Linked DNA regions of Homo sapiens: all the other regions are linked to region 2. The links come from fine-mapping of genetic effects on plasma protein levels. Region 2 holds a variant in brackets. A gene starts in each other region. All regions are shown on their reverse strands. Region 1 holds the start of GIP (gastric inhibitory polypeptide). Region 2 holds the start of PCSK1 (proprotein convertase subtilisin/kexin type 1). Region 3 holds the start of PYY (peptide YY).

Evidence for each region. PIP is the chance, under the fine-mapping model, that this variant and not a neighbour inherited with it causes the effect. Protein levels are from antibody-based Olink assays in UK Biobank. Linkage for the fine-mapping came from a reference panel and not from the study's own genotypes, which makes the PIPs less certain.
Region 1: GIP starts here. The variant in region 2 is fine-mapped to the plasma level of the GIP protein (UK Biobank, PIP above 0.99).
Region 3: it holds the start of PYY, and the variant in region 2 is fine-mapped to the plasma level of the PYY protein (UK Biobank, PIP 0.99).

The regions. Positions count from the first base shown.
Region 1 is chr17:48,965,254-48,973,253 of GRCh38, reverse strand. GIP (gastric inhibitory polypeptide) reads left to right here and starts at 4,658. Exons shown (of 6, transcript NM_004123.3): 1 at 4,658-4,737; 2 at 6,001-6,107. The coding sequence starts at 6,022. RefSeq lists enhancers at 6,071-6,571, 6,572-7,072.
Region 2 is chr5:96,430,364-96,438,631 of GRCh38, reverse strand. It overlaps PCSK1 (proprotein convertase subtilisin/kexin type 1), which reads left to right and starts at 5,384. Exons shown (of 14, transcript NM_000439.5): 1 at 5,384-5,769. The coding sequence starts at 5,590. All of the region lies in intron 4 of LOC101929710 (a long non-coding RNA gene), which reads right to left. It also overlaps a transcript of CAST not described here and the pseudogene LOC102724070. RefSeq lists silencers at 4,232-4,351, 4,213-4,507. The variant C/G (reference allele first, on the strand shown) is at 4,438.
Region 3 is chr17:43,949,034-43,957,301 of GRCh38, reverse strand. PYY (peptide YY) reads left to right here and starts at 3,362. Exons shown (of 4, transcript NM_001394028.1): 1 at 3,362-3,452; 2 at 3,819-4,006; 3 at 4,113-4,193; 4 at 4,322-4,569. The coding sequence starts at 3,819. The coding sequence ends at 4,346. RefSeq lists an enhancer at 3,824-4,327.

The sequences.
Region 1 (8,000 bases), not on the chromosome of region 2:
GATGGCCATAAAGGCTATAGATAGCATATTCTTTTTTTTTTTTTTTTTTTTTTTTTTTTTTTGAGACGTACTTTCACTCTGTCATCCAGGCTGGAGGGCAGTGGCACGATCTCGGCTCACTGCAACCTCCTCTGCCCACTGGGTTCAAGTGATTCTCCTGTCTCAGCCTCCCAAGCAGCTGGGATTACAGGCGCCTGCCACCATACCTAGCTAATTTTTGTATTTTTAGTGGAGATGGTATTTCACCATGTTGGCTGGGCTGGTCTCAAATTCATGACCTCAAGTGATCCGTTCGCCCAGGCCTCCCAAAGTGCTGGGATTACAGGCGGGAACCACTGTGCCCGGCCATATATTCTTCTTGAAGACCCCTCTGGAAAGTATCTATCAGGACCTAAGGGAAATGCTGTCGGCAAAAATGTTTGGGAGCATGACTGTGTGTGTGATGTGACTGTGGGGAAAAGCTGGAGATAGTCCCTCTAAGCATCAGGATAGACCGGAGGACTTGGCAAAGTTGTTGGGCATCAAGTCACCTCTTGTTTCCTCCTCTGCCTAAGAAGAAATCTGTTGACTGGTGTGAGAGAAGCCAGAGAGGGAAGTCGGCTTTCTCAGTCAGCTGTGAGTTTGAAGACTAAGTGAACTTCAAAAGCAGGGTCCACGGCGGGGAGGCAGCAGCCAGCCCTCTGAGTCACCCTGACCTGGCTGCAGAGCTGGGCCAGAATGTCTGCGCCAGCGAGGGGGATGGGGATGGTGGTGGGGGTGGCGGTGAGTCACCAGTGGGGACTGGAAGAGCAAGCAAACCCCAGATGCTCTTCTGCTGTTACAGTTCTCATTCCTGAGGGCCCAGTCAGAACCCAGGAAGGGCTGGGAAATGGGACCCAGGGTTCTCTTGCGATGGCACTGCCCATCACCCCTTCTCTGAATCTCACTCCCCTGATTACCTAACTCCTGTAACACCTCAGAAACCCCCCAACCCAACCCAACACACTCTTTCTTTTTTTTGGCGGGGGATGGAGTCTCGCTCTGTCTCCCAGGCTGGAGTGCAGTGGAGTGATCTCAGCTCACTGCGACTTCTGCCTCCTGGGTTCAAGTGATTCTTCTGCCTCAGCCTCCCAAGTAGTGGGGACTATCGGCACTTATTGGCCAGGCTGGTCTCAAACTCCTGACCTTGTGATCTGCCCTCCTCGGCCTCCCAAAGTGCTGGGATTACAGGCGTGAGCCACTGTGCCGGGCCCCCACACACTCTTTCAACTTGTGTGGGTGTTGGGCTAGTTGGGGTGTCCTCCTGACCCCCATCCCCTGTGTCCTCTCTGACCCCTCACATGCTAGCAATTCTCCATAGTGAAATGGGAAGAGGGAGGCTCTGCTAATTCCAGAGCCTCCTCCTCCCCACCCCCAACCCCAAACCTGCACAGAACTCTGCACACCAGGGCGCTTCTCCTTATGGTGTGGACAGGCTGGCTTAACTGCCAGTTGGATTTATTAAATGATTTTGATCAAGTCCAGCAGGCTCTTCCAATCCTCAGAAACTTCCCAGGGTCATCTTTTCAATTTCCTGCCTCCCAATATGCCTTTTGGGGGAGCTGTGGAACCCCCTAGGAGTTTGGCTTCATCTCTGATCTCCCCTGGCCCTCCTCGCATATTCTGCTGCTTCTGGGGAGTGTGGAACTTGCAGACTTGAGCAGGAGCTCTAGGCTTGGGGGCCCTCCCCACATTCCCTGTTCCTGCCTGCCCTGCTCTTCCCTGCCTACAGGGTCCAGGACATATTCTCTCTTGTCTGTGCACTGCAGGGCATGAGGGCCAAAGATCAAAGAGAAATGGGGATGAGGCTGCAGAGAAGGGGGTGGGGTGGGGACTTAAAGTACACTTGCTTGGCCAGTCACGGTGGCTCACGCCTGTAATCCCAGCACTTTGTGAGGCCGAAGCGGGCGGATCACTTGAAGTCAGGAGCTCAAGACCAGCCTGGCCAACATGGTGAAACCCCATCTCTACTAAAAGTACAAAAATTAGTCGGGCATGGTGGTTCTTGCCTGTAATCCCAGCTACTCGGGAGGCTGAGGCGGGAGAATTGTTTGAACCGGAGGTGGAGGTTGCAGTGAGCTGAGATCGTGTCACTGCACTCCAGCTTAGGAGACAGAGTGAGACTCCGTCTCTAAATTAATAAACAAAATGAAGTACATTGGCCTTCAGAGCAGCCCACCCCCAAAACAAATCCACAGAGTACAAGGCAGGGGCTCATGGCTGCTAGAGCCCATCACAGAGCCTTCCTTGACTCCAATTTGGCCCCAGACTCAGGGTTCCCAGGGAATGTTGTCCACTTTTCTTGGATACTGTTGCCTCCAGGCAGGAGGCAGATTTGAACACAAGCCCTTCTGAGCTCATTAACTGTGTTGCTCAGCAGAAAACAAGATCACAAGCAGCCCTCACATCTCCCTTGGAGGTCAAATCTGAATCGACGTCTAATCTCTGCCCATTGGTAGCTGGGAGATGGAATTTGGAGAGCTTGCTAAGGGAGGAGTTTTTCTAGATGGTGGAGAATGGGTGGGTATGCAGAGGAGGTTTCCAGGAGGCAGAGGTAAGTGACCCTGCTAGTCCAGGTACCTCTCATCCCACACGCACACTTAATTTCATGCTGGATCTGCTCCTAGGCTAGGGTGTTCACCTGGAAAGGAAGGTGGCCTTTATTAGGACCTGGAGCTGATAGGCAGAGCATGAGCTTGGCTGTTTATGGTCCCAAGTACCCATGGCGGCGGCAGAGGAGGAGCCTGGAAAGAACGCCTTGGAGGTCTGCCAAAAATGCAATCTGTGCCCTGCCCCTTCTAGACTGAGAGCCCCTGTGGACAGAGCCATGTGCTAAGTACTTGGAGAAAGGCAAAGGGAGTATCCCAAGGAGTCTCCAGTCTGAGGGGGAGACACAGCCCTTAGCCTCAGAAAGCCTCAGTGTGCTGGGGGAACATCGCCTCCAGCTCTCCTCCTCCTCTCAGAGAGCTCCCAGGCAGATCAGGGACAGAAAGCCCCTGCCTTGGAGTGGCTCCTGTATAATAGAGAGGCACAGCATAACTCCAGGGTCTTCACTCTGATAGAAGAGACAGGATGACATACTTCTCTTGTACAGGACAGTAGGACATATGAGGAGAGGGGCTCCTAAATCTCTATAGATAAAGTTGTAACTACCCCACCCTCCTGTGAGCCCCTGAGGTACAAACATGTCTCTTTCTCCTGCTTTATCCTGCCCCTGAGCAGGAAGACAGCTTGAATGTATGTTCTCAGTTTATCCAGCTGTCCCTAGGAAACCCCGATCCTTCATATTCCCTCAACATTGAGCCCTTGGGACACCTCTCTAGATAATGTGATGGGGGCATTGCCACATCACCAAAGCCATAGGCCACTGTCCAGAGCTGGGATTCAGATGACTGTGGACCTACTCTCTCCCACCCAGAAGTAGCCTGTTGCCTTGTGGGAGTGTCCCCCTGCCAGTTAGTGCCACCCTACCCCAAGTCTGTCTTCACTACAAGTACCCTTTTTTATTTTTATTTTTATTTTTTGAGACAGAGTCTTGTTTTGTCACCCAGGCTGGAGTGCAGTGGCACGATCTTGGCTCACTACAACCTCTGCCTCCAGGTCTGGGTTCAAGCGATTCTCCTGCCTCAGCCTCCCAAGTAGCTGGGACTACAGGCACGTGCCACCATGCCTGGCTAATTTTTGTTTGTTTTTTTTTTTTTTGTTTGTTTGTTTGTTTTGAGATGGAGTCTCGCTCCGTCGCCCAGGCTGGCAGGCAGTGGCGCCATCTCGGCTCACTGCAACCTCCGCCTGCCGGGTTCACGCCATTCTCCTGCCTCAGCCTCCCGAGTAGCTGGGACTACAGGCACCTGCCAACATGCCCGGCTAATTTTTTGTGTTTTTAGTACAGACGGGGTTTCACTGTGTTAGCCAGGATGGTCTCGATCTCGTGACCTCGTGATCCACCCGCCTCGGCCTCCCAAAGTGCTGGGATTACAGGCGTGAGTCACTGCGCCCGGCCCCCTTTCTTTTTTCTTTTCTTTTTTTCTTTTTTGAGAGAGTCTCTCTTTGTTGCCCATGCTGGAGTGCAGTGAACTCGATCTTGGCTCACTGTAACTTCTGCCTCCCAGGTTCAAGTGATTCTCTTGCCTCAACCTCCCAAGTAGCTGGGATTACAGCCGTGCACGACCATGCCCAGCTAATTTTTGTATTTTTAGTAGAGACTGGGTTTCACCATGTTGGCCAGGCTGGTCTCGAACCCCTGACCTCAGGTGATCCGCCCGTGTCGTCCTCCCAAGCGCTGGGATTACAGACGTGATTCATCGCGCCTGGCCTACAAGTATCCCTTCTAACTGAGGGCAACTGTAAAGGAAGTAGGGCATAGAAGAATAGTAGTGGGCCCTGTGCCCAGAAGGGAGGAGGAGGAAGAAAAAAGGGGGTACTTAGGGTACCCTACCCACAGGCAGGCCCCAGACAGCAGCTGGAGATAGCCAAATGTTAATCACCAATTAGCACAGTTCAGGTGGAAAGGGCAACTCTATTATGTGTAAAATGGACTTAATGTGGCAGGAGCTGTGGGCTTAATTTCTTGAGATAAGATGCTTTTAGGCTAATCAGCAGGTCTATGCCTAATATAAAGGAGCTGGGGCATGATTTCTTCAGCAGGCTCAGAAGGTCCAGAAATCAGGGGAAGGAGACCCCTATCTGTCCTTCTTCTGGAAGAGCTGGAAAGGAAGTCTGGTAAGAGAAGTGGAGACAGGGATGGATGAGATGACCCGAGAGCAGATGGATCTTGGCAACCCTGAGATGCTCAGCAGCCCTGGCATCTTAGTTTTCTCTTCCTCTATATGAGATGTGAGAAGATAGTCAGGTGCGGTGCCTCATGCCTGTAATCCCAATACTTTGGGAGCCGAGGTAGGAGGATCATTTGAGCACAGGAGTTCAAGACCAGCCTGGGCAATGGAGGGAAACTCGATCTCTACACATAATTTAAAAAATTAGCTGGGCATGGTGGTACATGCCTGCGGTTCTAGGTACTCGGGAGGGTGAAGTGAAAGGTTTGCCTGAGCCCAGGAGGTCGAGGCTGCAGTGAGCCACGATTGTGTCACTGCACTCCAACCCGGGTGACAGAGCGAAACCCTGTCTCAAAAAAAGAGAAAGAGAAATGAGAAGGTAGCGCTGATGTTTCCTTTATTTATTTATTTAGAGATGGAGTCTCGCTCTGTCACCCAGGCTGGAGTGCACTGGCGCAATCTCGGCTCACTGCAACCTCTTCCTCCCAGGTTCAAGCGATTCTCATGCCTCAGCCTCCTGAATAGCTGGGATCACAGGCGCGCACCACCACACCTGGCTAATCTTTGTCTTTTATGTAGAGACAGGATTTCACCATATTGGCCAGGCTGGTCTCAAACTCCTGACCTCAAGTGATCCGCCCACCTGGGCCTCCCAAAGTGCTGGGATTGCAGGCATGAGCCACTGCACCCAGCCTGGTCCATCTTTTGGTAAGATTCCATGTCCCTTCTAGTCACTAACTCCAGTGCACAGCACCCCTCATCTTCCCCCATGGTGTTGCCCCAGGCTCTTAGAAAAGGTCCAAACTGGCAAGGCGCGATGGCTCACGCCTGTTATCCCAGCACTTTGGGAGGCCCAGGTGGGCAGATCACAAGGTCAGGAGTTCGAGACCAGCCTGGCCAATATGGTGAAACCCTGTCTCTACTAAAAATACAAAAATTAGCCGGGAGTGGTGGCACATGCCTGTAGTCCAGGCTACTCGAGAGGCTGAGGCAGAAGAATGGCTTGAACCCAGGAGGTGGAGGTTGCAGTGAGCCAAGATTGTGCCACTGCACTCCCACCTGGACGACAGAGCGAGACTCCATCTCAAAAAAAAAAAAAAAAAAGAAAAAGGAAAAGAAAGGGTCCAAACCTCAGGGCTTTGCCCCTCTCCAGCTTTCAGAACCCCTACTGGTTGCTCTCTCAACATGTCCTGGCTTTTTTCTGTCTTAGCTCAGGAAATAACCTTGGAAGATGGTGGCCACGAAGACCTTTGCTCTGCTGCTGCTGTCCCTGTTCCTGGCAGTGGGACTAGGAGAGAAGAAAGAGGGTCACTTCAGGTAGGAGTGGTGAGAGGAAAGGGATGGGGCAGAGGAGGGGTTAGGGGATGACAGGTTCTGGATTTGTTTCTAGGGGGAGATGAGAAAGGGAAGGAATCCAGGCTAAGAGGTAGGAAGCTCCAGGGAAATACCTGCCGGCAGCGTGAGTGCAAAGTGAGCACTGAGCCAGAGAGGATTTATTGTGTGCTGCTGTTACAGTGGGAGAGACTATGGTTAGATCTCTGGCGGGACTTCCTGGTGGTTAATTGTCCGAAGATGACAGAATCTCCCTTCCCAATAAATGTTTTATTCATTTATGCATGTTTGCTTCTTTCTTTTCTTTTTTTCTTTTTTCTTTTTTTGAGACAGGATCTTGCCCTGTCGCCCAGGCTGGAGTGCAGTGGCGTGATCGCAGCTCACTGCAGCCTCTGCCTGCCAGGCTCAAGCATCTTCCCATCTCAGCCTCCCGAGCAGCTAGGACCACAGGCATGTACCACCACGCTCGGCTAGTTTTTGAATTTTTTGTAGAGATGAGGTTTCGCCATGTTACCCAGGCTTATGAATGCATTCTTTTTTTTTTCTATTCTTTTCTTTTTCTTTTTTTTTGGGGGGGGATGGAGTCTCGCTCTGTCACCTAGGCTGGAGTGTGGTGGCACAATCTCGGCTCACTACAACCTCTGCCTCCTGGGTTCAAGCAATTTTCCCTGCCTCAGCTTACCGAGTAGCTGGGATTACAGGTGCCCACCACCACACCCGGCTAATTTTTGTACTTTTAGTAGAGATGGGGTTTCACTATGTTGGTCAGGCTGGTCTCGAACTCCTGACCTTAGATGATCCATCCACCTTGGCCTCCCAAAGCGCTGGGATTGAAGGCATGTAATCCCTGTGCCTGGCCCTTTTTTTTTTTTTTTTAATTGGAGTCTCACTTTCTCACCCAGGCTGGAGTGCACTGGCGCGATCTTGGCTCACTGCAACCTCCGCCTCCCGGGTTCAAGCAATTCTCTGCTTTAGCCTCCCAAGCAGCTGGGATTACAGGCACCTGCCACCACGCCCGGCTAACTTTTGTATTTTTAGTAGAGATGGGGTTTCACCATCTTGGCCATGCTGGTCTTGAACTCCTGACCTCGTGATCCACCTGCTTGGACCTCCCAAAGTGCTAGGATTACAGGCGTGAGCCACTGCGCCTGGCCTGTATCATGTAGATGTTAAGAACATAGATCTGAGCCCAGATGGCCTGGGGTAAATCCTGGATCTGTTACCTATACGGAGTGGCAGATAATAAGACAATAATAAGGTAATCTCTGCACCTTGGTTTCTCCATTCACAAAATGGGGATATAAATAGAACCTACCTCATAGGATGTTGTGAGGATGAAATTATTTTATGGATTCAAGGGCTTACACAGTGCTTCTCAGAGCTTTCGTATGAGTTGACTATTGTTATGGAATGTGAACCAAGGAATTGAATCAGGAAGGGCCAGGGCAGGAGGAATAAAGGAGGGAATTGTGTGACTCAGTCTTTTCAGATGAGGGGACCCCGATCCCTTTTTTTTTTTTTTTTTTTGAGATGGAGTCTCCCTTTGTCACCTAGGCTGGAGTGCAGTGGCGCGATCTCCGATTACTGCAAGCAGCGCCTCCTGGGTTCACGCCATTCTCCTGCCTCAGCCTCCCAAGTAGCTGGGACTACAGGCGCCTGCCACCACGCCTGGCTAATTTTTTTGTATTTTTAGTAGAGACGGGGTTTCACCATGTTAGCCAGGATGGTCTCAATCTCCTGACTTTGTGATCCACCCACCTTGGCCTCCCAGAGTGCTGGGATTACAGGCGTGAGCCACCGCACCCAGCCTTTTTTTTTTTTTTTTTTATTGAGACGAAGTTTTGCTCTTGTTCCCCAGGCTGGAGTGCAATGGCACGA
Region 2 (8,268 bases):
CATCACTTATTCCTACAAATGTTTAATCCCAGCCTAATCATTAGAAAACACCAGACAAACCAAAATTAAGGACCATAATATAAAATAACTGAATAGTACTCCTCAAAAGTTTTAAGGTTGTGAGAGACAAAGATAAAATATCCCAGTTTGGAGGAGACATAATAACCAAATGCAATAGGGAGTCTTAATTGAATACTGGACCATAAAAGAAGATATACTAATAGAACAGTTGGAAAAATATAAAGGTCTATAAATGAGTTAAGAATATTGTATCAATGTTAATGTTTTGGTTTAGCTAATAGTAATATGGTTACACCAGATGTAAACCCCAGGGAAAGCTGCATGAACGGTATACACAAGTTTTGTGTACTGTTTTTTCTTAATTTTCTGTAACTATAAAGTTATTTCAAAATAAAAAGTTGGAAAAATAAATTATCTTTTTTTAGTTGGCCAACTATACTATATTCTATTCTGGGTGCCACATTTAAAAAATTCTATTGAAAGACCCTATCCGGACAAGAGCAAGCAGAATGCCAAAGTGTTAAAAAGGTTGGGGATGTTTAACCTAGAGCAGAAAAAAGTTAGGCAAGATATAACAATCTGCCTTCGAAGTATGAATTGCTATCATGTATAAAAGAGATTGAGACTTGTCAGTGTGGTACTAGAGGGCAAAATTAGCATGCTTGACTGGAGGTAGTAATGAGGAAAGGTTTTATAATATCATTATAAGGAAGGACTTTGTAACCATTTCAGCCAATCCAAACCAAAGAATGGGTTGCTTTGGGAGACCAGGAATTGCCTAACAACTTGTTAAAAAATATCACAGAGGAGTGTCATGTATACCAGGCATGTTAAGTAGATCAGTGCGTCTCAAACTTTAATTGCGTATGAATCACTACGGACTCATTAACAATGCAGATTCTGATTCAGTAGTTCTGGGGTGGGGGCTGAGGGTCTGCATTTCTAACAAGCTTCCAAGTGATGCCTATAATGCTGGTATGTGGACAAGACTTTGAGAAGCAAGGAGCTGTATAATATTCAAGGTCACTTTTCAATACTAAAGTCTATAATTCTCATAGAAAGACATACTTCAGGAGCAGAGACAGCAGTTATGCACTGAGAGTTTAATACGAAAATGGCAATGTTTGAGAGCACAGAGGAAGCAAGAGCATTGCCTGCAAGCAGAAGCAGGGATGCTCTGCAACTCACTCAGTAAATGCATATTTTAAAAGAACCTGTTAAAGAAAGAACCTAAATACTTGTATATGGCCACATTTAATTATCCATTTTCATTAGAAAAGATCAATTATTTCTAGCAAGTGGAATTTATGGCACTCACTGCTTCCATTTTAATAATTCAATTCAATTCTACATTAAATTCAAGATTTTGTGTTTATCTAGTTCATTCAGCAAAAATCCTTCATAATTATTCATCCACCTCAAAGCCTTTGCAGTGTATAGACTTTGCTTTTTTACTCTTTTACTTCCATTTCTATAGGTCAGAGCATCCCAACCAGTAGAATTAAAGATGTCCCTCAAGATATTTGGTCTTCTAATCACTTGGGAAGGCCAGGTGAGTAGCTTGTTGCTGAGCTCTTGGAACTCAACCAAGTCGTGTCCACCACCTTGATGCTGTATTTACTTCAGCAACCTGCTGCAAGCATGTCTATTTCCATCATGTGAAAAGTGTCTGTGGATCTGCTGGAGGAGTTCATACTCTAAGTACTTAATTAGCATAGCACACCCACCAAAATTTGGTCACGGGAGGAGATATCATGAGAAAGTAATTCAGGGACTTCTGGCAGGTGTATCTTTAAGTGGTAACCCCAATATCAGTCTTTGTGTATACTAGATACTTTTCTCAATTTGTGGTAAAGTTGGTAGATGGTAACTTCTCTAAAAGGTGTGTGTATTTTCCAATTTACAATTTCAATATTATTTTGTCATACTTGACCTGTAAAATTTAGATGGATTCTGAATCTATAGGCATTTTCATATAGAACTCCAATGATAAATATGTCAAGAAAATAAAGACGGCTATATTATTTAAAATAGAATTTTGCAAAAAAGTTTCATTGACAGCAGCTATTAAGAATATAAAAAGATCATTTGTCATTAAAATGTTTTAATTAGAAATGATATATAGCCTTTTTAAGCATAAAACTTCAGATAAAAACTTATATTGGTGAAAGCATATTCAGATTTCTCAATTTAAAGTTATTAATATGCAATTTAATGTATTGCCCAAAATGTTATATTTTATTTTGTTATCATAATTGTATCATGTAAAGAAAATGTTATGAATCTCTTCACCCAGCTCCATACAGATGTCTTCAAATTTCCTCCAGTTTACCCCAGTGTGCCACACAAATATTGTTATTTTCTATGTTGGAAAACACTGCTATAGGTAGGTTTGCCCCTATAATGTGTTCTGCTACCAAAAATCTTCTAGTTTAATTACAGACTAATTTGTTACACCTTTGAGTTAATGTGCAGTTAATGTTACCCATAGCAAACAGGCAAGTCTACATGATAACTGGAAAATGTTAAACCTACATTATTTCCTTACCCATTCTTTAACATCTCTTGAAGATCTAGGAATATTATTCTGTTATTCTGTGGGTCTAGAAATGTTTTTCTTGGCCCAAATGGTTACACTGTGTCCACTTTGTGATAAATATTGGGTACATTGTTTAGTATGCCCAAGGGTATATGTTTTATTTCGTAGTAACAAAATGTTTAAAACATTTGTTTCCTAAGACTAAAGAGATATGGTGATCTATAGATCTCCTTTGAGCATATTCTTACTTCCTGCTCTTAATAGCTTCTTTTACTCTCCAAGAAACCTTAATGAATGCTTAGCTGTATCACTGGGCAGTTGTGAGCATCATGAAAGGCATGGCAATCACTTGATAACTTATAATGGAAACACGTCCTCTTAATTTCTGGAGTATCCGGTTTTCTATATAAATTAATCACATGAATCAAATGCTATTAAAACCAACTTAAGGGTGATAATTGGCTCTTCCAATTTATAATACGAAATATAACACTGATGGGCCTGGAGGTCACTACCATGATCTACAAATCAGGGTAGGACTAGCCCTTGAAACAAAAAGTTAAAATGGATTCTAAATCTACTTGCACCTCTAGTCTTGGCAGAAATTTATTTCTTCTGCATGCCAGAAGTTCTGGCAAAGAGGTTCATAGGATAAAAATCAGACAATAGCAGATTAACTTACTGATATCTGTATTGTGTGGATGAGGATATTATCTTCTTTTTGTGAGAGTTTACTTGGCCCTGTTAGGTATATAAACCAAATGTTTATTCCAGGCTTCTATGGTGCTCCATTTAAGACAAATGCCTCATTAATGAGAGAGACACGGACCCTATTGCCAACACTCTGCCAAACTGATTTACTTGAACAATAATAAGAAAGGGACAAATATGTTCCTCCTCTGACACATCTACCGTTATAAAACATTTGCCCTGGGCTTCTCTTGCCTTGCTAGTGCACAGTTAGTGTCTGTCTGCTGTGAGAATGAAACACCCTTGAGAGCTTGAGGCCACAACTCAGGCCGAGGTGTGAAGGGAAAAGAAGACAGCTTACCCAGCCATCAACATTCACACATGTGGATTTACAGAACAGACAACAAAGCTATCAATCGGAGCCCATTCCATTTCATCTCATGTGAGTTACATTATTGTAAAACACTTAACCATGTCACATGGCTTATTAACATTGGCATTTGATTTTGTAAAGATGCTTTATGTTTAAAGAAATTATGTAGTGCACATTTCTGCAAACGTGGAGGCAAATGAAAAATTAGCACTACAGAGCCTGATCCTCCACCAAGTCTTGTCTCATTTGCTTCTTGTAAGGAACATCTCTTGCTTCCTTTCTCCACTTGTTTATATGCTTTCTTTCCAACCTTCTCCCCTTTCTTCTATTTCTACAGCATAGATCGCGCCCTCGGGCGGTTGAGCTTTAAAAAACAACAACAACAACAACAAAAAAAAAAACAAACTTCCCAGGTGCAGCATACTCTCTCAATTCCACCTCCCGGCGATTTTACTTTTGGCCTGAGTCCAACACGTTCCCAAGAGCTGGACACAAGTTGTCACGATCATGAACCTAACCACACTCCCCCCTGCGGCCAATTTCCTATTTTGCTGTTCAAAAGAGGGAAATGCACATATCAAAAGGAAAACAGCTTGGTGCTGGCCAGCTGCAGAAGGGTGGAGGTCTTTGGTGCTCAGAAGAGAGAGCAGCTCCTGCGGCAGTCCTGCGTGTGTCGCTGTCCAGACCTCGGTGCTGAATACTAGGCACTGGTATCTCCCGCCAGGTTCAATCCCTCAGGGTTCGAATAGGCTCCACCATGGGAGACTGAACTCACTTCCCTAGGGTGAGGGGTGGAGAATTCATTTAGATGTTT[C/G]CTTGCTCTCCTCCCACAGGAAACCATTTTTCCACAAAGAGGCATTGTGCATTTTATGGGAAAGTAATGGCACAGCTCCAGCTCAGCACCAAAGTGAAGAGCTCTACTGAGGCACAATGGAAAGTCGAGGTAAATAAAAACTGCTCTTTCCCTCCCTGAATCAACACAACAGCTTTTGGGATCCTAGATCCCCTTGTTGACGAATTCTTAAAAATATGTTTTTTTAAAATCACATGATTAATCATTTTACTGATAAACACCCTAAAAGGTGGTGGTGGCGCTGGCTTTGCAATATCGGAGTATAACTACTGATATTGTTTTACTGAGGTTGAGAAACAAAGGGGAGGAGGGAAGTAAACTTGTAAACTAAGGTGGCTTGAATGGTTAAAAATTCATTTTTAATAGTATTGCTTTAACATAGACATGCTAATTTTCTCAGACAATTTAGAACAGAATTGGGACAGTAGTAGCTTCCCTTCTTCTCCTTACTCTCCTAGCCTCTCTCTTTGAAAGACCTAAGAGCCTTGTTCTTCATAGCAGGTGCTGATGCCCAAAGGGCCATTATAAGAATCCTATAGCCTCCCCCCCTCCCCGCCACACACATGAGATAATAAAGTAAATACAGAGAAAATGGATGGAAGGGAGGGAAAGCACTCCCAGCCTTTGATTCTTGGTAGTTATGTTCAAGTGGGGCACTTCTCTTTGAAAAGTGAAAATGTTTCTCACGGTACAGAATTTATGGGCAGACAAGGAGCAGACTTAACTGATCCCAGCAAACAGTTCCTTCCTTTTCCTAATCCCTGGCTGCTTATTTTAGCCGCTTCTCCGCCCCGCCGGGAATACCATTCGGATCTTAGTCCAGGTAGATCTGACGTCAAGAGATGGCTTTCGTCGATTTGACGTGTAAACACTCATTTCCATTCTGGCTGGGAAGGGCTGGGGCTCCACTCAGCCTGGAGACCGAAGCGCTTCACTGAGCGCTCGCCGCCGCCCAGCCTCTCCTCTCGCGCCTCCTAGCTCTTCGCAGAGCAACCAGGAGCCAGGAGTGGTCTAGAGCCCGAGGGTGGGAAGGGGGAGTCTGTCTGGCTTTTCTCCTATCTTGCTTCTTTTTCCTCTTCCCTTCCCACTCTTGTTCAAGCGAGTGTGTGAGCTATGGAGCGAAGAGCCTGGAGTCTGCAGTGCACTGCTTTCGTCCTCTTTTGCGCTTGGTGTGCACTGAACAGTGCAAAAGCGAAAAGGCAATTTGTCAATGAATGGGCAGCGGAGATCCCCGGGGGCCCGGAAGCAGCCTCGGCCATCGCCGAGGAGCTGGGCTATGACCTTTTGGGTCAGGTAAGAGTTTCCACTTTCAAGAAACTTTCTGGGGCCCCAGGGGACTGGCGGGACTGGAGCGCGGTCTTCCAAGTGGGAGCCCCAGGTTGCACTCTCCAGAGCCCAGAGTAGCAAAGAGCAAGGAGCTGCTCCAGCCCTCGCCCCTGTCGCGCTTGGAGAGAGAGAAAGCTTGCATTATTTACTGTTTAGGCTGGGCGCAGCCAAGCAGAAGGAAGCCGCTGCAGCTGGGTAGGGCTTATGCTTACTGTTGGCCGCTCTAGAATTGAAATCCGTTCCCGCGCGGTTTGGAAGAAAAATCCCTCCACGCTTGTTCAGGGAACTTGAGATACACTCAAGCTCTTACCAACCAAGCGCCCCCGGGAGAAGCAGTGCGCTCCATCCCCCGGGACTGAGGCGGTCTGCGTCAGGAGCCGGCTGTTGCCTTCTTTTCAATATGGCAGCATCAGATCCAAGTCCTGATGCAAGGGGCTAAGCAGGCTTGGGGCTGTCCGCCCTGGCAGCCTGTAAGGGCACGCCCAGGGCATTGGAAGAGTGCCAGCTGCTGGGACTCGCGACCAGGAGGTTGGGAGGCCGCGGAGTAGCCTGGGAAGCTGGGGGGAGAAATGGTGGGTGAAAGACACGGGACCATCTATCCCCGCGACTCTCTAGGGAGCTCCGGCTTTTCACTGGGAACTTATAAAGTCCAAGCTTCATAACTTTGCCCGGCCAGTCCCACTGCAGGGTCGAGATGCCGAACTGACTATGGGGAAGGGATCTATTTCTTTCTTGTTCTTCAGCCAAGTACGTAATCGTTTTCCCGGGAATTTCAGCTTATTGTTGCCTGTCCAAGTGAAGGCTTGGTCGATAGGTAGCTGGTTGGAGGTGGGTGGGCGTCAAGACATTAAGTGGGAGACTGCTTATAGCTGAGCGATTCCGAGGGGACCCTAGGGAGTGTGACTTCTAGTCTAGAGCTTTCCTTTCCTTGGCTCGGAATCAAGCCCTCGCCCCCTGCTTGGGAAGTTGGTCTGCATTGAAGCGTGGGAGGAGGCAGTTGTAAAACATTTTGGCGCGTTTTTTCTGGAGGTGGTGGTTGAGACGCCGCTGGAGTCACGGATGAGTAATCGGCGGGGGCGTTGGCGATTCTGTAGACCGAACCCTCTGGGGAATTCGCCTGCTCTTGCTAGAGGCTTCATTCTCAACTTTATAAACCAAATTGTCTTTGAAATGCCCGAAAGGAAAATCAATGCAGATTGGCTTCCTGGTGTCCCAGCAGCAGATGAGTCTTTTGCTTTTGGCCAGCCCTTGCCCTCGTGCCAGGCTCCGTGTTAGGGGCTGAGGAATAAGAGGAGGGAAAGAAACGCTCTCAAGTAATCAAGAATCTAGAGGAGACTAGCTTAGAGATAAATGATTGCAACTGATTGTAATTTGTGTAATCATAGAAGTTGTACTTGAAGTCTCAATATTCATTGGTTGAAGGAATGAAAGTAGTAGGGAATTCGGGAGGGGTGAATGAAAACTGCCCAAAGGAGAAAACATTTGCTCCGGGAACAGAAGTCAAAGGTTGCCAGGAGCACATAATGAGATCGGAGAAGACAGTCTAGGCATAGAAAACAGCTTGTGGGAAAACAGTGAGACATAATACAGTTTAGTAGTAAGTCTGGGAATTGCACGCAATTATTAGGAATTTTTGAGACCCAAAGAGGGTATGAGTAGCAGAGGAAATTGTGCTGGTGGGTACTGTGGACATCATACAAATCATGTATGACCTATGGGGGTGGACACTGGGGATTTAATTGTGTATTCCTTGAGCAGCTACTGAAAGGCTAAATAGCACTGGTAACCGTGTAGGAGGAGACTGGGGAAGACAGCAAAAACTAAATCTCTCTTCTTTTTCCCACCTGTTAGCTCTAGGCATGCATCTAAACCTAGACCATTCAATGTGAAAACTGCTTTTCAAAATAAATAAACATAAATCTTAATAGTAAAAAACAATACATCATCATTCTTGGGAGGATCTTTGAGTAAGGGATAGCATAGTCACAAAAGCATTAACAAATAGTGGGGGAAAACCATCTATATTTATATATGATTTACAATACTATCTTTCCTCTAACCATTTTTAGTTAAGATGGCATTACTAACAAAAGTTTTAAAACAAACTTAACAAAATTATTTTATTAGAATAATAATTCTTTGTAGAAGGCTGATAGCACGTTCCTGGTTCTGCTTATTTCTCTTTTTGTTTAATATTACTAAAATTACACTAATTTAGCATTACTATATTGGGTACCTTATTGCCTCAGGATAAAGCTTGGATTAAGGTAGTGACAAGAAGAAAAACCAGTTGACAGCAGAGAAAACAGAGCTAAGCACTGGTGATCTTTTTCTGCGGCTGCTGATTTCTCTCCCCAGTTCCATCCACAGCTTATAGGAAGATTCACTGAGATTCAGGCTTGGAGCAGGGCCTAAGCTTCTCTATTTTAAAATTCTCTGGGCGATGAGAATCACCAATTTAAAGAA
Region 3 (8,268 bases), not on the chromosome of region 2:
TTGTTCACTACTCTATCCCAGTGCCTAGATCAGTGCCTGGCACACAGCAGGGACTTAAGTGCTTGTTGAATGAGGATTGAATTACTTTTTTTTTTTTTTTTTTTTGGAGACAGTTTCACTCTGTCGCTCAGGCTGGAGTACAGTGGCGCGATCTTGGCTCACTGCAACCTCTGCCTCCTGGATTCAAGCAATTTTCCTGCTTCAGCCTCCAGAGTAGCTGGGACTACAGGCATGCGCCACGACGCTTGGCTAATTTTTGTATTTGTAGTACAGATGGGGTTTCACCATGTTGGCCAGGCTGGTCTTGAACTCCTGACCTCGTGATCCACTCACCTTGGCCTCCCAAAGTGCTGGGATTACAGGCGTGAGCACCACGCCTGGCCTGAATTACACTTGCTGTATGACAACCTGCTATCTCTAGGACCCTGGGCATGAGGAAATGCCTGAGGGTGGAAAGCAGTGGAGCAGTGCCACACAGTGCATGGTGATCAAAGTGAGGCCTTGTGTGTGGGGAGTGGGTACAGGCAGGTGGGTGATGGGGTACAGAATTCTAAGCCTCTGGGGATGAATGGCAGAGGCCACACCATCTTGATGAGTGGCCCTTGAGCCCACTGGACAAGGAGAATTGTTGGCTGGGGTCCAGGTCCATGGTCTCCCTGACTTGGGGTGGCCTTGCCAGGTGCTCTCAGAATGGGGACCATTCTGATTCTGTCCCCTCCCCTTTGATTCTGTCCCCCACCCTTCAAGGACAAACCGGAGGCAGGTCCTGGTCTCACTTCTACAAAAACAATTGTTTCTGAAGTTTCCCCCCTCACACCCTAGACATGTCTCATGGCCACTGAGTCATGCAGCAATGATGGGTGTGGGTGTGTGGATCGGGGGGTGGCTGAGCCCATTGATCGAGGGCTGAGACATTTTCCCCGCTAATCAACAAGTTAATAAGCTCTTCGATGAGGAGGCGGTGATTAATGAACCAATCAGCTTGCCCTGTAATTGGGGAGTGAGATTGGAGGGTGGGGGTATGAGGGATAGAGAGGGTTTGCGGGGATGTGCGGCTGGCTCCTGGTCCACACTGAGACCACCTAGGGGCCCATTTACTTTGGCTATAAATGAGGAAGTGACTTCTTCAGAGGTTGTAGCCCGAATTCAGGCCACCCCATGCCCTCTAGCTTCTACAGTGTCTCTCCTCTCTTCCCATCTGTCCTTGGACTCCACATTCCCCAAGACATGACAGGGTTCCAGGGATGTCAGATTCCCCATGGCCATCTCACAGTTTCCTTCGTCTCTGTCCAGAATCGGTGCACTAGAAATCCCCTACCAGCACCATGGTTAGTGCCGCCGCAGGGTCAGAAGAGCAAATAGCCCCCTACTCTCTGGTATCCTTGCCCCCGTTAGCCTGCAGGGTCCTTCTCTAGGCCCTGATCCCTGGGATCACAGATGTCCTAACCAGCCCCCACTGCTCCCTCCATCCTAGGGTGAGCACCTGTCTTTTGTCTTTCCATGGAGGAATGGAATTATTTGATTTCTGCTGTCTCCCCTCCAAACAGGACAAAGGCTGTCTCTGTCTCTCTGTATCTGTTCTGGGAACCGCTCATACTGGGGCTCCCCTATGACATGGCCATATCTCTCCTTTGAGACTGGGGTTCTTGAAGGGCAGGGGTGTGTCTTGCCCCCTGGATGAGGGCTCCCTAAGAAGAATGATTTTTCTCCTCCCTCCAAGGGCAGGATCTATGTCCCCTTGTCCTGGTGTCCTCTTCCACCCCCATGCTCAGCAGGGCACCCTGGTGTTTCCTGGGATGTGGAGTCCCATGGGGCCTGACTGGCTGATAAGGAGCCATTTCCGGAGAATGCAGGTGATTGAACCCATAAAATGGTGACAGAGAGCCCTGAACTCCCCATCTCAGGAGAGCTCTAAAAATAGCGCCCACAGCCATCTGTCCTGGGGCTGGAGGGGCTGGCTCAGAACCAAGGGCCTGGACAAGTTGGCCCCATCAGTCCCTATGGGCCGATGGGACATCTGGAAGTACTGGAGGTCTGGCGAGGCCAGGGAGAGGAAGCTGGAAGGGCTTTATGGGGAGACCTTCCCACAGCCCTTTCTCCTCCTGGGCAGGTGGGTTTGAGGGGGTTGGCAGTCTGAAGGTCCTTCCCCTACTCCGCCTCTCAGAGTGGGTGTGGGCCCTAGACTTAGTCTTCGGGTCCCTGCTCCCAGGCCTGCCTCTGGCGCCCCAATGGCTACTCCAGGTGCTGAGCCTTTCTGCCCCTCACAATTGAGAGGTCCTCTTCCTGGGTTCTGCCTCACCCTGCTTTTCCTGTTTGAATTGTGGGTGAGCTTGGCTGCTCCATCACCTCCCAGGGCTTCAGTTTCCTCATCTGGAAAATGGAGATAAACTCAGCTCATCGTCTTGTGATGCCCGAAATTATGCACTACCTAGTGCATAGTAGGTGCTTAATAAACACGAGTCCTTTCCTTCAAAGGATCTGGGCTTAGAGCCCAGTGGAGACTGCCATGGGCTGGGGACAGTGGCATGTGCCTGGGAAGCCTTGGCATCACTCAGGCCCAGAAGACACCAGTGCTCTGAATGACACCTGCATAGGGGTGGAGACACTCTGCCTTGGGAGGGGGCTCTATACCACACATGGCTGGACTGGGGTCTGTGTGTGCCAGTCTGGATACACAGGTGGCCGACTCAGCTGCTTCTGGCGGGGAGATTGGTTTCTGCCTCCTCCTGCCTCTTTTCCAACTCTTTAATAGAGAGAGGACATAATGGAGTGTTCAGAGAGGCCTCTCCCCAAGACACCATAAACTGCAGGTCAGGAGCCAAGGTCAGGTGCTCCCACCCTGCCTCCAGGAGAAAGACTTTCCCCAAAAGGTCCTGTCATTCCTCAGCCCTTCTCCAAGGTATTACTGAACAGAGGCTGAAAAGGGTTGTCTTTTGGAAAGAGTGGTCACACATCCCACGGACTGGAGGGAATGTGTCCACCCTCCCACCCCCAACTCCCATCCACGGACAGGCTAGGGAAGACAGAATCTCAACCCTGGTCCTAGGGGCTGCCCCAGGAGTCTAGATCCAACCGCTTCACTTCCTCAGGAGGCTAGACCTGCCACTGGGGGGCTGTGGGGTGAACATGGGGTTCAGGCTGGGTACCCCATCCAGTGAGACCACGAATCTGAGCATGGCAACTGCCCCCTCAGCTCCTGCGAGGTGGAGACATCACGCACTGGCTGGGTATAAGCTCAGCGATCTGGCGAGGGTGGAAGGAGGGAGGAAGAAGGGCCCACCCCCTGCTGGCTCCCCCTCCCCCTGGGACTCCCCCTCCCTTTCCAGGCGGGGATATAAGCCCCACAAGGAAAGCGCTGAGCAGAGGAGGCCTCAGCTTGACCTGCGGCAGTGCAGCCCTTGGGACTTCCCTCGCCTTCCACCTCCTGCTCGTCTGCTTCACAAGCTATCGCTGTGAGTGGCTGGGGGCTCAAGCCTGGGGAAACCCAGGCTGTTTTGTGGGGAAACTGAGGCTGGGATGGTGGAAGCTGGGGGTGAGTGGTAGGAAACTGGATTGGAGGGGGCCATCGGAGGTGGGAAGGAGGCCAGCAGCGGGGGTGGGGGTGGGGAGGCAGGCAGGGCTTATGCTCCTCTGACATGAGGAAACTGAGTCAGGAGACGGTGCAGTGCCCAAGAACACACAGCAAGCCCGGTGGCTGAGCCTTGGTCCGGTACCAGCCCCAGGGAGAGCGTCGGAGCGCGGCCCCGACGGCAGCCGCAGCCTCCCGCCGTGTAGGGTCGAGGCTTGGAATGACCCACGTCCCAATGTCGCCTTCCCAGATGGTGTTCGTGCGCAGGCCGTGGCCCGCCTTGACCACAGTGCTTCTGGCCCTGCTCGTCTGCCTAGGGGCGCTGGTCGACGCCTACCCCATCAAACCCGAGGCTCCCCGCGAAGACGCCTCGCCGGAGGAGCTGAACCGCTACTACGCCTCCCTGCGCCACTACCTCAACCTGGTCACCCGGCAGCGGTGAGCGCAGGCGCGGAGCGGGACCCCTGGGGCTCTCACCCTGCGGCCCCGCTCCACCTGGGGGCGTGGCCAGATCTGACCACGCTCTTCCCTTCCCCGCCCCCAGGTATGGGAAAAGAGACGGCCCGGACACGCTTCTTTCCAAAACGTTCTTCCCCGACGGCGAGGACCGCCCCGTCAGGTCGCGGTAAAAGCGCCCGTTACCACACATCCTGCATCCGAGAGCGCGGCCTGGCCCTACCCTGGCAACATCACTTAACGACGTCTCCCAGGCTCGCCTCCCCAGATCCAATTCCTTCCCCTTCGCTTCCGCAGGTCGGAGGGCCCAGACCTGTGGTGAGGACCCCTGAGGCCTCCTGGGAGATCTGCCAACCACGCCCACGTCATTTGCATACGCACTCCCGACCCCAGAAACCCGGATTCTGCCTCCCGACGGCGGCGTCTGGGCAGGGTTCGGGTGCGGCCCTCCGCCCGCGTCTCGGTGCCCCCGCCCCCTGGGCTGGAGGGCTGTGTGTGGTCCTTCCCTGGTCCCAAAATAAAGAGCAAATTCCACAGAAACGGAATGTATGCCTTTGTATTTCCTTTCCTTTCTCCTTCGTGGAGGTGGCATCCCGTAGAAGTGGAGGGTGGAGGCGTGGGGGCCAGGGAAGAGAAAACCGACTTGGACAGAGGCGCCCCAGGACAAGGCTGGGGCGGGCTGCGGAGTTCCCTCTGCTCGGAGCCCAGGGAAGACTCGACCACCCAGCCTGGAGCTGGACAGCGCCCAGGCCAGGAACTGCTGTGGAAGGAACTCTGGTCGAGTGGGGGCAGGAGTGGATGGAACTCTGGAAGAAGGGGCGGGGAGCGGCGACAGGAGCCTGCTAGGCAGCCTAGGAGAGCAGATGGGGTCAGGGCTGTCCCTCCCCCACCCCGTGAAGCCGAAGACGGCTGGGGGACGAGTCGGGCACCAACACCCCGGGGCGTTTCCCCAGGAGCTGTAGTACTAGCGCCCAGGGCTGGAGTGGCTGGAGGTGAAGTGTAATCCAAAATGGGGCTGTGGAGGAAGAGCCGTGTGGGGGTGAGATGGCTGTACGTGTGCTGGCCGGAGAGGCAGGCCATTTCTACCGTCCCCCTTTCCCTGAGTAGAGGAGCAATGGGAGTGTGGAGGCTGCCCTATCCCTAAGAAACCTCCCTCCCCAATCTCGCTGAATTCACACGCAGTGGATAAGTCACGAACTGTTCTTTCTTAGTGACAAGGCCATAGGGACACCCTCCATGTACCCCCCTCCCCTGGACTAGCTACTGAAGCCTAAAGGCTCTGTGGATGTTTAAACTGGAATCCAACTCGAATCCCTCACCACTCTGTACCTATTCCAGAGCCTGCCTGCAGACTGATCTCCCCTGACATCCACCCTTCCCTGCCCCTTTCCTCCAAGAAGCTTGCCTTGATTGCCCAATTGCACTCTTCCTGCCCTCTCTAACTGCCCAGCTCTCAGGGCCTCTGCTCTGTTCACTGAGAGTTCTATGTCTCTGTGTCCTGTCTCCCTCCTGGGGCCTCAAGAAGGAAGGGCCTATGTCTCCTTCCTGGGACACAGCCTCCTGTATCTGTGGGCTCTCTTCTGGGACTCCAGTTCAGCAAGACCTGCCCAAATCTGAAGCAGGGCACTAGGAGATGAGGGGGGAAATCAGGTTGACTTCAAAACCTGTGACCCAGAGAGGGGAAAAACGACAGGAAGGCTGGGGGCATCCTTGCAGCGGATCAGGGGTTTTTTTGTTTTGTTTTTTGTTTTAGAGATGGAGTTTTTGCTTTTGTCGCCCAGGCTGGAGTGCAGTGGTGCGATCTTGACTCACTCCAACCTCCACCTCCTGGGTCCAAGTGATTCTCCTGCCTCAGCCTCCCGAGTAGCTGGGACTACAGGTTCTCACCACCACACCTAGCTAATTGTTGTATTTTTGGTAGAGACGGGGTTTCACCGTGTTGGCCAGGATGGTCTCAATCTCCTGACCTCGTGATCTGCCTGCTTCGGCCTCCCAAAGTGCTGGGATTACAGGCGTGAGCCACCGCGCCTGGGCTGGATCAGGGTTTTTAAGGAGTATTTGCAGTTCAATGGTTCTGGAAGGAGAGAAGACTCTAAAGCTGACTCTGCCATAGCTGCAGAGAAGTTCCCTGCTTGGACACAGGTCCCTTGGGGGCCACAGGGCTCTGACACCCACCCTCCCCTGTGCTGCCCTCCAGCCTCCCTGGAGGTAGAGCTGAAAGGATGAGGCAGAGGAGGCAGGTGGAGGTCACTGGCTATGTGGATTCTGATGCTCTGCGCCTTTGCCCAGGCCACTTTACCTCCTTGCAGAGCCCTTTCCCTCTCTTAAGCCTGGAAGATACTCTCAGGATAGTGGTCACCTCCTCCTGGAAGCCTTGCCTGATTTCTTGGGGATGGAGTTAGTTTCTTTGACTCCCTCTCCCCACTCATTATCTTAGACCCACTTTCCATCCTATTTTGCCTCCTGTCTTCTCTCCTGCAACAGGACAGGTGGGACGAGAGCACACAGTGGCTGCCCTGAGCTTTGGTTCATTGTGTGGGTGGGGAGTGGGAGGATGTGTCTGTGTGTTGGTGTCCATGATCCCCTGTCTATTGGTCTGCCTGGGAGAGCTATAGTCAGTTTAAGGCGGATGGAAGAGAGACCTGGTATGAGTTAGGCATGACCACAGACAATTTCTGCCCAGCTTGACATGTCTCATTGACCATCAGTGACATGGGTCCACCTCATGTTCATTTTGAGGAGTGTTGAGCAGTTTAGGGTAATAACATTATTAATAATTATTATTAGTATAATAATAATGACAATAGCAATAATTATTTTTTCCAAAAAGCACTTATTTATGTGCGAGACACTGAGCTGTTTGTTTTACATATATCATATTACTAGGATATTGATTTGGCTTAAAAAAAAAACAGGTGGAATTAACAGTGGCTTAAACAAGATGGAAATTTATTTCTCTTGCATGAAATGTGAGTGGCACGTGGGGAGTTGGCAGTTGTGCTCCATGAGGGCATCCAAGAGCCCAGGCTCCTCGTTTGTGGCTTCCCCATGCCCTCATCTATGTCATTTACAGGACTGAAGACAGCCCACCATGGCCTCATCTGTGTTCCGGCCAGTGGCAAGGGAGGGAAGGGGAAGGTAAGCACTCTGGTTACTATGTTGTATAATAAGTTACCCTAAAACTTGGCAGCTTCAAGCAACCATTGTACATCACTCAGGATTTTGTGGGTCAGGATCAGGAAGTGCTCCCCCTGGCAGTTCTTGCTTTGAGTCTCACATGCGGATACTATCAGAGGTTGGCAGGGTTGTGGTTAAGGATCCACTGGGCTGATGCCTGAGAAGGCTCATTCGCATGCTAGTGCTGGCTGTTGAGTTCAGCCGGGGCTGTTGACCATTGTACCTACATGTGGCCTCCCCAGTCTGATATTCTTGGGGTAGTTGGACTTAAATGGTAACTGGTCTCCTGCTTGGAGTATTTAAAGAGAATCAGATGAAGATGGCATTGCTGGTTAGTTTGCTAGGGCTGCCATAACAAAGAATCACAGACTGGGTGGTTTAAACAACAGTTCCTGTGGCTAGCAGTCTGAAATGAAGGAGTTGGCAGGTTGATTCCTTCTGATCTGTTCCAGGCCTCTCTCCTTGCCTTGAAGATGGGTGTCTGAGCTGTGCCTCTTCACATCATCTTCCCTCTTTGCATGGCTGTTTCTGTGTCTAAATTTCCCCTTTTCAAAGGCGAACAGTCCTATAGGATTAGGGGTTCACACACTGTAGTATGACCTCATCATTTTTTTTTTTTTTTTGAGATGGAGTCTCGCTCTGTCGCCCAGGCTGGAGTGCAGTGGCATGATCTAGGCTCACGACAACCTCCGCCTCGCGGGTTCAAGCGATTCTCCTGCCTCAGGCTCTGGAGTAGCTGAGACTACAGGCACGCGCCACCACACCCGGCTAATTTTTGTATTTTTAGTACAGATGGGGTTTCACTATGTTGGCCAGGGTGATCTCAAACTCCTGACCTTGTGATCCACCCGCCTTGGCCTCCCAAAGTGCTGGGATTTCAGGCGTGAGCCACCGCGCCTGGCAACCTCATTTTAACTAATTACATCTGCAAAGACCCCATTTCTAAATAAGGTCACACTCTGAAGTACTGGGAGTTAGGACTTATGAATTAGAACATATGAATTTCAGGGGGGGCACAATTTAACTCATGACAATCATTTTTGTGACCCAGCCTCAGGAGATAAGGC